Linked DNA regions of Homo sapiens. The protein of the gene in region 1 purifies or fractionates together with the protein of each later gene. This does not show direct contact. Each region holds a gene or a part of one and is shown on either strand. Other genes may lie near its edges.

Region 1 (7,028 bases):
TTTTCATGGCAGAACATACTACAGTAGTTATAGTGGAACAATGAATATGGTATAAAAATAATATCAGCAAAATATCACAATTATACTTATTGACGATAAAAGTTTCTTTATATACTATGCTTTAACATCGATACAAGTTTGTGTGTTTTAAAACTTAGAGGTCTTTTTTCCCAAGTTTGACTCTGAGGCAAATTTTAGGGCTTAATCATCTATGTAATGAGCAATTAGGACCCTTTTATTTTTAACTGGTTCTTCTCTGTCTCTTGTTCTATATCACTCACAAATGATGTATTTCTACAGAACTTGGGAGATTCAAGTCTGTTTCCCTTTTAGGAAAAAAATAGTGGACAAAAGAGATCTTCGTTTTGGTCGAATCTATCAAACAGTTTAACATTGTTTATGAAATATAATTACATCATCATCTGAAGTGGTATTGTGTTAGATCTCGATGTGAATTTTGCATCCAAAGGGGAAGACAGGTGGTGGTAGAATCCAGCTTCCTAATACGCTTTGCAAAGGCTTTGTAGTATTAGTTTGTGGTTTATGAATTAGAGATGCTAATTTTATAAAATTAGCATAATGGGAAAAGAATAATAGCATGTCAGCTGTTAAACTTTGAGGCAATAGTGGTTGCTTGTTTGCTATTCAGTGAGTGTCCTTGAGTAGTTTATTTTATCAATACTATACAGTATTAGGAAATAACTTTTTCCTTCTAGTTAGTGGTATAGCTAGTTTTTTGTCTCTTAAGTAAAATTCTAGAAAAGCCAATTGTATCCTTAAATGTTTTTGTATTCTATTTAAGAAACAGTTTCTTTCTTGTTGCTTTCAGGACAAAAGAAAGAAAAATAAATAAAGAAGTAGTCTCTTATTATAATATAAAAAATAAGAGTATAGTGAACAAAAAAGTATACATATAATTCCTCCACTAATGGGAATAACCCATTCTTAACATTATGGCACTAGTCTTTTTATTTAAATGCATTTTTTCCATAGATGAAAGCACATGGTACATATATATAAATTATGTTCTTTTTTCTACTTAATATTATAACCTAGGCGTTTTGTTTATTATATATAACTTTATAAAAACATTTTTGTTAGCTGCATGGTGTTCTACCTTGTGGATGAATATCGTTTTACCTAACAATTCCCTTATTAATGAATATTATGCAATTTTCAGTTTTTGTTTATAGTAAATAATACGCAGTGAATATTTTTGTGCCTATAACTGAGTGTGCATTTTACATTTTTTTTAGGGAGGAGAAATTGCTGGTAAAGTCCTAAAAGGAAATTTCCTAAGTAACAAGGTATTATTTTTACATTAAAGAGTAGTGTATTTTTATTACCAAATCTGTCGTGTTTATTATTGAGAAATTTAAAAGTATAAATAGGAGGCCAGGCTAGATGGCTGACACCTGTAATCCCAGCACAGTGGGAGGCCAATGCAGATGGGTTGCTTGAGGCCAGGAGTTGGAGACCAGCCTGGTCAATATAGCAAGACCCAGTCTCATTAAAAAGAAAAAAAAAAAAACTTATAAATAAATGAAAAGAATTCCCCATAAAATCACAACCCCAAAGATAACCATAACTAGTTATTTTCAGACCTTTTCTATAATAGATAACTTGAGTTTTCCTCAACACCATATACCTCTCATATTGCTTAGCTAAAGAGCATGTAAATGTATAGTCTGTGGAATCATAAAGATATTTCATAGAGGTTCTAAAAATGACCTTATTAAAATGGCATGTGGGTGTCAGGCTGCTTACTTACCCTTAAGAGAACTTGGAATGCAAAACTGATAACAAGGACATTTTGAAAACTGTATTTGTTTGCTAAAAAGCTTTCCATGTGCATTTTGGGGATTTTATAGTTAGGCCTAATTCTTTACCACCTTAAAATGTAAGATTTTTAAAAGGTTTTCAGAATTGTTAAGGTATTAAAATTGCATTTTTATAGCAAAGTCAGAAACAAGAGAAAGGCATATTACACCCTGATTATGATGTTTCTTGAAGAGAACTCATTTTAAAAATACATTTGAATTTTCTATTTTGCTTTAAAATTTTAAGACTCCTTTCAGTAGTCTTGGTATTAATCTTGTACTGTGAAATATTCCAGATTTCAAGAAGCAACTGTACTATGTGCAACAGAAGGACTTGTTACCAAATAACTCAATCGCTAATATTTGTATCTAGTCTTATGTATGATCTTTAATTTTGTATTGAAATAAAATTGTATTTGTCATGGAATATATATACTTTCATAGAATTTTTCTGTAGTTTTTGGCACCCCAGACAAATAGTATTTGTCAAAGTATTCTGCTAACTATTGTTCAAAATGATCTGCTCTTTTTTGGGAGTGGGAACAAACATGCAAAATAAGAGTTGTGTAAATGTTTATATTCTGTAGAAATTTTAACTTTAACAGAGTTTAATGTGTTCTGATTTTAAACCCTCTGGGAAATACTATCTCAGTACCAGTCAATTAAGAAAACAATTATTTGGAAATAACTGAAACTGGCCTATCTTCTTGGATTCACATGATGACATTTGATTTATGACCCACTGCTGATGGCAGATTCATTTCCTTGGAGGCAAATGGGTTCCAGAATTCATTAGGATATCGTTCTTTCCGCTTTAATGTACCTAGTACCTCTTCTACCTTCCACCTCCATCTTTTCGAAATAAATTATATAAAACTTTCTTTATTCAGAACATTGGTGTAGAATACTTTCCCATCCTTCACAGAGAAATAGCCTATATATCCATTTTGAGATATTAGAAGATCGAAAGATAAACTTGGAAATTCCATCAGAAACTTCATTTTAAAAAAATTTTTAAATACTTTAAACAGATTAAGAGATGAATATTGGATGAATTAAACTGAGAAACAATACTAAAATTTATTTTAAGTTCTTCTTGAAAGTAAACATAGTATTGATATGGTTTCCCCCAGTTATAGAAGTCAATGCATCTTCATTGTAAACATTGTTGAAAAGCCCAAAGAAGAAGATTAACATCCTTACTTCCACTCTCCAGACCCAGAGATAATGCCTGTTAATATTTGGTTCATCTTCTTCTAGTTATTCACATATATTTTATATGTATGTAATAAAATTGATGTCATGTATGCATATAATCTGTGTTTTTTACTTAACATGTTGTTAACATTTCCGTAAGTTTGAAAACTATGTAAAGCATAGTTAAATAGTATTTGTGCATTTGACTATCCATATTTTATTTAATCAATTTCCTATTACTGAACATTTAGTCTATTTCCATCTTCCTGTCTCTCTTTCTAAAATAATGTTTCAGAGGGCATCCCTCTACATACATCTTTGTGCATGTATCTAATTATTTCCTCAGTGTAATTGCCTAGCAATGGAATTCTTGGGTCAAGGAGTATGTACATTACCTATCTTACGGTGTAGGATGCCAAATTACCCTCCAGAAAAGGAGTACCCGTTAATTTTCACCAGGAAGAACTCATATTTTGCAGGAATATTATTTTCTAAATCTCTGCCAACTTGATAGCAGAAAATAATATTCTTCATTACTTTTAAATTTTTTTCTATTTTTATTTTTAATTAACAAATACATGTTTACATTTTGTTACTTCAATTTGCATTTCTTTAATTACTTTGTACAGTTTTATATGATGATGATTTGCATTCCTTTTATAAATTTTTTTGTCCTTTGACCCATTTAATTGCATTGTCTTTTTTGTTGATTTGTTTAAATACTTTTTAAGATAGGGGATTATTTTTAATCACTTCTTTAATCATCTTAAAAATTCTCAGTTTAATTTTTGTGAGTATATAACTATCGGACCATTTACCTTTTCCCCCAATCTGTTTTTCCTACCCACTATTATAAAAGTCAAATCAATTTTTTTTTTGGGGGGGGGACAGGGTCTCACTCTGTCACCCAGGCTGGAGTACAGTTGCGAGATTACACCTCACTGCAGCCTCCACCTCCCAGGCTCAAGTGATCTTCCCACTTCAGCCTTCCAAGTAGCTGGAACTACAGGTGCACACCACCATGCCTGGCTAATTTTTAAATTTTTTGTAAAGACAAGGTTTTGCCATGTTGCCCAAGCTGTTCTTGAACTCCTTGGCTCAAACAGCCCTCCCACCTTGGCCTCCCAAAGTGCTGGGATTACAGGCATAAGCCACCATACCCAGCCTTCAAATTAAATCCTAATGAGAATTTATTATTTGAATAATTTTAAAAGCCAAATTTACATTGGAAAAAAGTCTCCTTTTTATTTATTCTGAGAGGGTAACTAGAGAATTCTCTATTTTACTACTGACTTTTACTGCTTTCAGAAAGTCTTTCATTATAGACCACTCAATCACACTTGCTTTTCAATCAAATGATAGGCTAGTAGGTTGTAATTCCACCAATGATTTGTTGTATAAGCTGAAAGTTGTATTTATTTTTTAATTTCAAAGGTCTAATGTATGGTATGATAGAGCTAATGTTACTTGGTACTTCAGAAGGACAGTGTAGAATTAGTATATTAGTAATAGGACTGGAGTAAATATTATCTAAGACAAGAAACACATGTTAATCCCTTGTAATTTGTTATTAGAAGAATAGCTCTTATTTGTAACTTCTTTATAAAATCTCCAAAAGCTACTTTTTTTGGCTTTAATCTGTGGATTTATAGAACCCAAAAGCAACTTTTGTATATGTGGTTTCTTTAAATGAGATTAGTATTTCTTTTATGAGAAGTTAATTTGTTTTTCTAAAATCAAAGAGACAGGATAGGCCAGGCATGGTAGCTCACGCCTGTAATCCCAGCACTTTGGGGGGCCGAGGCGGGTGGATTGCTTGAGGTGACGAGTTTGAGACCAGCCTGGCCAACATGGTGAAACCCCATCTCTACTAAAAATACAGAAATTAGCCTGGCGTGGTGGTGCATGCCTGTAATCCCAGCTACTTGGGAGGCTGAGGCAGGAGAATCACTTTGAACCCTGGAGGCAGAGGTTGCACTGAGCTGAGATCGCACCACTGCACTCCAGCAGTGACAGAGCAAGACTCTGTCTAAAAAAAAAAAAAAAAAGATAACAAACAGTTTGAAAAATGAAAAAATTCCATTTATTCATCAGTTTAACACTTTTTACATTTCTGCTCTTACATTTAATTCTTTGTCCTCCTGTATAAAATTTGTATTTTACATAGTTGTTACTTTCATAGTGTTTTTTAAAATTTCACATTGTTAGAAACATTTCTGTATATATGGTCTTCTTAATATTTAAATCATAAAATAATATAGCCATTTTCTAAAGAATTTTGAAAATGAGAAAATGAAAACTAATATATCTCAGAGAATTAGTATATGATAAATAACTGTCATTGTTCTGGGTTTTTTCTTATTAGAAAAATAATACATGTTCACTGAAGAAAAATTGCACAGAAAAGTACAAAGCAGTTTTTTGTCATCTTTTTCTACTCATACCTTATGCTGAGACTGCACTGATATCTCAGTTTTCTAATACTCTATTGATTATATGTACACATAAGGCTGGGTGAGGTGGCTCACACCAGTAATCCCATACTTTTTGGAGGCCAAGGCAAGAGGATTACTTGAGCCTAGGAGTTTGAGACCAGCCTGGGCAACATGGTGAAACCCACTCTCGACCAAATGTGTGTGTGTGTGTGTGTGTGTGTGTGTGTGCACACCTGTAGTCCCAGCTTCTTGGGAGGCTGAGGTGGGAGGATCATTTGAGCCTGGGAGGCAGAGGTTGCAGTGAGCTGAGATCGCGCCAGTGCACTCCAGCCCAGGCAACAGAGTGAGACCCTGTCTCAAAAAAAAAAAAAACTACACATAAATCTTTGTCCTCATTTCAGATTATTTCCTTCAAATAACTTCTCAGAAGAGTCCTTAAGCTACATGGAATGGATGATTTTTAAGGTTCATAATAAAGACTACTAAATTGCTTCCCAGAAAAATTATAATCTATTTTATATTCCTACTAACTATCTGAAACAAACATCTCACTGAACTTTAGCTGACCAGGTTATTTATTTTTTAATCTTTATAAATATAATAAGTGAAAATGGTATTTTGTTTTTAATTCATATTTCCCTGAGTATTTTGAAGTTGAATATTCAATGTTGCTACTTTATGTGGGATTTAGTTTGATAGTAATCATTCTAGTTTGTCCTAATGTTCTTCAGTTTATACAGGAAACCTTTATTCAGTCCTTTAGTAGAAGGAGTATTCATTTTTCTGTCATATAAATTTATTGAAAGTTTTTTTAAGATAATGTATATATAATGATTAGAGAGTTGAATAGATGAACACCACCAAAAAAGGGGATCTTTCCATTCGTGGAGTTCCTTTCTTGACCTACTTTCTTGTTACCATGCAGATTTTGTCTCTTATACTATGTTGAGAACTAAATAAGAGAAGGGATATAGAGAGGAAGTTCCCAGAAATCTAAGTTCATTCTAATCCTTAAAAGGAACTATTGGAACACAACCCTTTTGCAAATTAAGGACTTTCAGTGCACCTTTGGGGAAATCCCCAAATACTTTTTTTTTTGTTGGTAAAATGTGTTCATCTTCTTCTTACATACCTATTAAATTGTTGAGGGTAGGAATCAAATCTCATTCATTTTTATATCCCAGGCATAATTCCTGGCACACAACAGATGCTGTGTAATGTATTACTACAAGACCCTTTGAAATAGTGAAAAGATTAAAGTTGGAGTTAGAAGGCCTAGGGTTTTTCTTCCTTAATTCATTAGAGCTTTAAGACCTTTGTTGATTATGTGACATTATTTGAACCTCAGTTTCAACTCATGAGTGTACTGCTTGTTTCATTTACTTCACAGAATTGGGAAATAAATGAGATAAAATATGCTGAAGTATCTTTAAAAATGCTGTGCAGTTGTGAAAGTCATCACCATTGTTAGTATTATACATATTTCTGGGAAGTACTTGATAGAGAGCTCCATTGTTAAGAAATTACTTGGATGAGTTTGGCAGACTGCTAGCTGATCATTGAAAACTCTGCTGTT
Region 2 (7,028 bases), on another chromosome or scaffold:
ACCTGGTATCAAATCAGTCGGGGCTCAGTTGCAAGAAATGATTTGCTTGAAAAGAAAATAGCTTTGGTTATTTTATTATCTTGTTTCTATTAAGTGACCACACCTGTGTTGTGGGGTTTTGTCTGTCTTGGGTGTTTTTTTAGTTTGTTCCCTCTCAGGCATTAGTGTTCTTATTCTCTTTCTTTGTAGCCAGTTCACCCAGAACTCAAAGGAGGAAGAGTGATAGGTCTTTGTTCACATTTGCCAGAAAGACGGTCATGTGTGGGAAACTATTTAGTTGCCGATTCTCTGATCCACCAGAAAGAAATCATTTAATCATGTATTCTTACTCATTCAACAAATACTTACTGAGAAGTATTTATGTATCAGTAAGGTGACCATATCATTAATGTTCAAACTGGGACAGTTTTGCATGTAAAAGTGGACACTACCTGGTTCGCACTCTAAGACAAATATAAACCAAGATTTTCTCAGTCAGATGTCATTGGGTTCCCTATATATTAGTGGCTGAATTTGGACGATTAGAGTCTTGGGTGATGCTAAAGTTTCCCAAAATGCCCTTAAGGATTAAGGACAAAGCCAGGAAGGGGTATAGCTTCCAAAGCCATGAGATGAAAAGACATAAAAGATAAATTTAGATTAAAGTTGAACTAGACATTTCTAAAATTTTCCCACAACTCCCTTTTTTAAATAGATTTCATGTTTAAAAAAAAAATAGAACAATGTCTCTGGAAGGTAATGACTCCACAATGGAAGCCAAGTTCCCCTGAGATGAGGCTACCTGGAGGGGCTTAGAAAAATGTTTAGAATTTATAAAGAATGAAATTTCCCACCAGGGCTAAGTGATGGTGATATCTTTTGAAAGAGGAGGAACAGAATGGAACAAGAACAGTGTGTGATTCGTTATTAGCCTCTTCTTTCTCTAACTTGGAGTTTCTTCAATGTGGCTATTATTTTGTGTGTGATAATAAATGATATTAGCATGCACACTCTTTTCCTATGGAAGATCTTTGGTTCTGAAGTGATTTGTTTCTCTTGCATCCCAGGTGCCTGTCCTGAGACCCATGGACCTGATGGTGGAGGCCACCCCACGAAGAGTATTTGCCAACGCACACACATATCACATCAACTCCATATCTGTCAACAGCGACTATGAAACCTACATGTCCGCTGATGACCTGAGGATTAACCTATGGAACTTTGAAATAACCAATCAAAGTTTTAGTATCCTTTCTTTGTGATCAAGAATCAACTGGCCTGAATTAAGAGTATTCAGGTGCGAGTGGGCTGGGAGAAAATATGGAATAGAAATGCAACACCTAGCATTTGCGGAGAACTTGCCCCTTTTAAAATACACTGGCACCTATGAGACTCTTTAATCATAACAATAAAGTTAGGGAAATATTGTTATTACAAGTGGGAGGCCAGGGCTAGCTCTGGATTGGGACTCTGAATCAATTCCTTCATACAGAGGCATTTATATGTCACGAATTAAAATTAGAGGTGATTTTATCAACAATAGGATAAGACCCTAGAGTTCAGGTTCTTTCTCTGTTAAAGGATTCATAAATCTGTATGGACAGCATGGACCACAGACATACTGGTTTCCATTGTCTCATAATAGTGAAAATAATAGTGACTGACATTTATTGAGTTCCAAGCACTTGCAATGGGAACTTTATAGTATTACATTTTTTACCTCATTGAAGTATATTATGCATATAGAAAAGTACATATTATAATTGTACAGTTTGATGAAATGTATAGTATACATATTATAATTGTACAGTTTGATAAAATGTACAGTATACATATTATAATTATACAGTTTGATGAAATTTCAGAGGTTGAACTCACCTATAACCAGCATTGACATCCAGAAACAGAACTTTGCTAACAATTCTCAAGCCCCCATCATGCCTCTTTATATTAATAATTTCTACCCCCAAGGACATATTTGATAAAACAACCCCATAATGTAAGTATCATTATCTCCTGTTTAATTAAAATATAGAAAAGTCGGCTGGCCGCAGTGGCTTATGCTTATAATCCCAGCACTTTGGGAGGCCTAGGTAGGTGGATTGCTTCAGGTCAGAGGTTTAAGACCAGCTTAGCCAACGTGGCAAGGCCCCAACTTTACTAAAAATACAAAAAAGAAATTAGCCAGGCATGGTGGCGGGCGCCTGTAGTCCCAGTTACTTGGGAGGCTGAGGCAGGAGAATCGCTTGAACTGAGGAGGCAGAGGTTGCAGTAAGCCGAGATCGTACCACTGCACTCCAGTCTGGGTGACAGAGCCAGACTCCATCTCAAAAAAATAATAAAAATAAAAAATATATAGAAAGGTAAAAAAAAAAAATGCTGAATAGCTGGGCCAGTATTTTCACCCCCACTATGTTGACCCTCTATTTCATAGTAAAAATTGGTCATTTATTGAATACCTATCATGTGCTCCATTTCTCACAAACCTAAGGCATGAGATTTATGAGGAATGGCACTGAACAACTCAGGTAACTGAACAATTGACCTAGGTATCAATATGGAGTTTTCTCTTCCACTTACCAGCCTCCCCTACTCTAACTCCATCTATCCATGAGCCCTGCCTCTAAAATATATGTCAAATCAACGCATATATCCCTATCTACCTACCTACACTAGCATAAGCCACTGTTGTCTCTCACCACTGTGACTGCAATAATCTCATCTGGTCTCCATTCATTCTTGCTCTTTTATACAGTACGAACCCTTCAACATGTAATTCAAATATCATTCCTTCCCTGATAAAAAACATTCCAGTAGCTTCCCACTAAACTCAGAATAAAATCCAAGTTATTTAACTTGGCCTATAAGATTCTGCGTGATCTGGAACCTGTCTCCATCTTTGTTATCCAGTCTTGTCACGCTTCCCTAATTCACTTCATTTCAGCCAACTAATCACTTTTCTGTTCCTAAGTAAACCTTATTCTTCCATTCTTTGCATTTGCTGTTCCCTCTTTCTAGAATATTTTGCCCACAGCATTCACATGGCTAGTTACATGTCACTTCAGGCCCCAGAGGTACTCTTTCCCATTAACTCTTAAGTAGCTACCAATAACACTATCCCTGTTATTGTCATGGTACTTACCATGATTTGAAATTTTTTTACTTATGTATTTTTGGTTTCCTCATGTTAGGATGTAAATTCTACAAGAGCAAGGGCCTTGTATGAACTATTGCTGTATTCCAGTACGTGGAACACTCTGACATACAGAAAATTATTGAACCTGTCAAGTTCGAAATAATAGTAGGTCATCAAAGTAGCGCTATCCAGTAGACAGTTCATAAAATCTAACCTGGAAATTTAATTTTAAGAGTTATAGTAAAGCTCTGAAGGTTCGTTTATAGAATAGACCCCATAATGGCTCAAACAAATAAAAGATTATTTTCGTATGAAGTCTAATATTGATGATCCCCATCAGCAGGCAGCCTCCTCCAATCAGTAATTCAGAAACTCGGGCCTCTTTCATTTGCAGCTCCCCAATGTTACCATGTTTATAGCAGGACTGTAAAAGGGGAAGGTCATGGAAGATCACAAGTGGGAGATTCCTCTGAGCCATGCCCTAAAAAAGTATGCATTCCATTGGCTAGAATTCAGCCACATGGCTAACTCTTAACTGCAAGGCAGCCTAGGAAATGTAGTCTGGCTGTGTGCCCAGGATAAAAAGACCCGGTTTTGGTACACAGCTAGCTAGTCTCCACCATGGAGAGCACTCAACCGTCTCCAAGGGCTTTCAGGGAAGGCAGCTTTAATCAGATAGTGGCAATTATGAGATATATTTGGAGACAATGAGAACTGACCATCAGGACCATGCCTGGCATATTTTGTTGATCACGGAACAGACTCCACATGCTGTCTGGGCCTGCCTACAGATTTTGCCTGGCAGTGCAGCTGCTAATAGAATGAGTGTGGGTGGTGGTTCCCTTTTTCTCTCTCCATCTATTCCAAGAGCCAGAAATCTGCTCAGGCTCAGCTGGCTGTCACTCTGAGCTTCTGCTTCCCCAGTCTAGGTGACATGTTTTCTGAATTTTGCCTCTAGGCCTTCAAGGGGGAGGGGAGTTTCTTTAGGCATTTTGGGAGACAGATGCCTTGGGGAGAATGCAAAGGGGAAATATTAACAGCGCAGTTTAGGTTATATTCTGCAGATGTGTGACAGACTGCCAGATGCTGGCATACAAATGAGACCGTGCCATTCACCCTTAAAGCAGCCATATGTAAAATAATCATTGTCATCATGAGAACGATGATAAGTGATATCTATATAGTTCTTTTCAACCAGACCGCCCTAAGCACTGAGCCTCTCATCACTGAAGTATAGCCACCTCTGGGGTAGGAAGCGGCCATCTTTCAAAACAGTCTCAGAAAAATACCAGCCACCAGGCAGGTCTCATTTCCACAATGCCCCTTATTCACAAAGGAGACAGAAGAAACATGGTTCAGGATAGAATAATTTGGGATTCCCAAAGCATAGTGTGGCTACTACTGGGGATGGTAAGCAATGTGCTTCTAAGCAATAGTGAACGTCAAAAAACATAACCATCATATCCTACAATTTCATAGATATTCAAAATCTATTTAGATTACAAAGTAAGTGTATGTAAAGCATTAAGTAAATAGTGAGACAAGGGATCTGGAGATATGGTTAGAAAACAGTCATGACTTCCTGTGACTGGCATTTGGTGTGACTTTGGCATTACGGTTGAGAACTCAGGCTTCAGAGTCCAACAAGTGATAGAGGTCTCACCCAGCCCTACCACTTTTCTGGCTGTATAAGCTTTAACATGTTCTTAATCTATCCAAGCCTCCATTTCTCATTTTGTTCATCTGTAGAAAGCAGCTCTATCACGAGAGGATTATGAAAATTAAACACACACACACACACATACGCACGCACACATTTAGGGTAGTGCCTTGCTAAGCAAATGCTCAGTAAACAGGACTAGCACAATCATGATAATTATTGAGAGAACAAGGAAACTAGAAAAGTTGAACATTAGAATGGTAGCTTTTATTCTGCTAATTTTATTATCTGGATTGTCTTTTCAATTCTAGACTCTTCCTTTGGTTCTGCAGTTGGGTGTCCTTTGCAAGATGCTGCCCCCTAGTTACTAAATGTTTTCAGGAACTCTGAGGTCTAGGGCCTTGTGTTTAGCACCAGATCAGAGCAAGGCATTTCTAAACCTCATGATAACTGGTCATGAATTCTCTCCCTTCCATCCATAGCCAGTCTGTCCTTGTCTTGTGTAACAGTTTCCCACATAAGCAGTCAAACTTTCGTCTTAATAGGCTAACTACATCAGGACTATAACAACTCATTAATAGATTAGTAGTTTTCTAGGGCAAGAGACAATAGCAATAAATGAAAATTTATATTAAAAGATGTTGCTTCTTTATGAAAACTATGGTATACCTAGAATCCTTTGAACTCTTTTTGCAGGACTAAGAATGAACTGACCTGAGTTCTTACCTTGTCCAACATGGGATCTATTAAATAGGCCCATATCGAGTAAAAATAAAGACTAGCCCTCAACGATGATAAATTGAGCACCTAGTTTGTGCCAGGCATGAAAATGGGAAAAAACAAATTTGCCGCTTTCAGAGTAATGTTCATCAAATACACTGAGTATATAATTACAAACTGAGATAATTTCTGTGAAGACAGGGAATATGGTTCTATGAATGCATTTTTAAAAATCCTGCTATAGACCAGGGAAGGCTTTGCTGAAGAATTAGTTAAGATCTGAAAGAGGAAGACTATGAACTAACTTGGCAAAGAGGTGTGGAGACATGTGTTCAGTGTGTACAGAGGTCCTGTGGCAGGAGAGAGTATGACATGTTGGAGGAATTCTAAGAAGGCCACTATTTTTGAAGCCCAGAGAGTGAAGTGGAGCATGGAGTAAGCAAGGCTGGGAAGGGTAGCAGAAGCCTCACCTTTCAGAAGTCCAGTCTCTGAATATGAGATAGAGGACTTATCTGGGAGAAGCCAGCTGGACTCTAGGGATACTTCAACTTTGACCTTGGTCCTAACAACCCTGTACAGTGGCTTCATTTTATTTGTCAACCAAGCTGAAGCCCTGTTAGAGTCGATTCCCTAATTAAGGGACCAGGTAGCCTCAACTCTTGGCTTCCAGGTTCTAGCACTCATTACTACCATGGACAGCAGCTTCCTTTTAATTCAGTGGGATTCTGCCAGGCAGGCTTCCAGGGGAACTGTGGGGTCTAGTACAAGTTTCTCCCCTGTTGCTGCTTCAGTGGCTTTCACCCTGCCCAATACATATTTAATATGACACCATGTGTCTCTTTGTCAGTCTCCTCATATTGAGCCTAGGAATTGGCAAACACTCCATGAATATTTACACATTGACTTTTTTTTAAGCTCTTAAGAGAGGAATATCCCTTGGAGTCCTCTTTGGAGATTTCCAGTGTCTCATCATCAAGCAACATGTCCTTTCAGCTAATAAGATCTTTATGTTTCATAATCATTGCTTAATATCCAAAGATTAAATTTAGACCATGGAAAGGGAAAAAGATCTCAAAGCAACTCATGTCCCTAAAAGGAAATCACACTCATCAAACAAATACGCTGTGTTCACACAAAGATATTACTATTTTCTACCTTCAGTACTGGCAGACTTTAAGTGGGATATGAAAAGCCTCAGCTGCTTTTGAATGTGGGTACTTTACCCTGGTAAACATAGATTCCACTCTTCAGCTTGGCCAATGTTTATAATACTCAGCCCTGCAGAAAAGCGTCCTACTTGGCTCTCTTATCCTCCATTGGCTTAGACAGGAATTGGGGAAATACGCATGTCAGTATTAGCAAAATCAGCAGCAAAGGGACAGAGGCATATGAAAGTCACCTCACAAAGGCAATGCATATAAACCCTATCCTTGGAGAAATATGTGCTTCCTTCAGAAGAAGGAATATTCACTCCAGTGTAAAACCACTTAAATTATCTTTTCCATTATCTTGTTTAATAATCAAAATTCTTAG

What was found.
Region 2: the proteins of SIK2 (region 1) and PPP2R2B purify together in Homo sapiens (co-immunoprecipitation; 2 studies listed by IntAct, with this or other methods). This does not show direct contact.

Annotation. Positions count from the first base shown.
Region 1 is NC_000011.10:111,605,439-111,612,466, forward strand, and holds part of SIK2 (serine/threonine-protein kinase SIK2), read left to right. Parts: intron 1-898; exon of another isoform or gene 899-1,307; intron 1,308-7,028. UniProt on the Homo sapiens protein: Serine/threonine-protein kinase that plays a role in many biological processes such as fatty acid oxidation, autophagy, immune response or glucose metabolism.
Region 2 is NC_000005.10:146,644,743-146,651,770, reverse strand, and holds part of PPP2R2B (serine/threonine-protein phosphatase 2A 55 kDa regulatory subunit B beta isoform), read left to right. Parts: intron 1-1,046; coding exon 1,047-1,224; intron 1,225-7,028. UniProt on the Homo sapiens protein: The B regulatory subunit might modulate substrate selectivity and catalytic activity, and might also direct the localization of the catalytic enzyme to a particular subcellular compartment.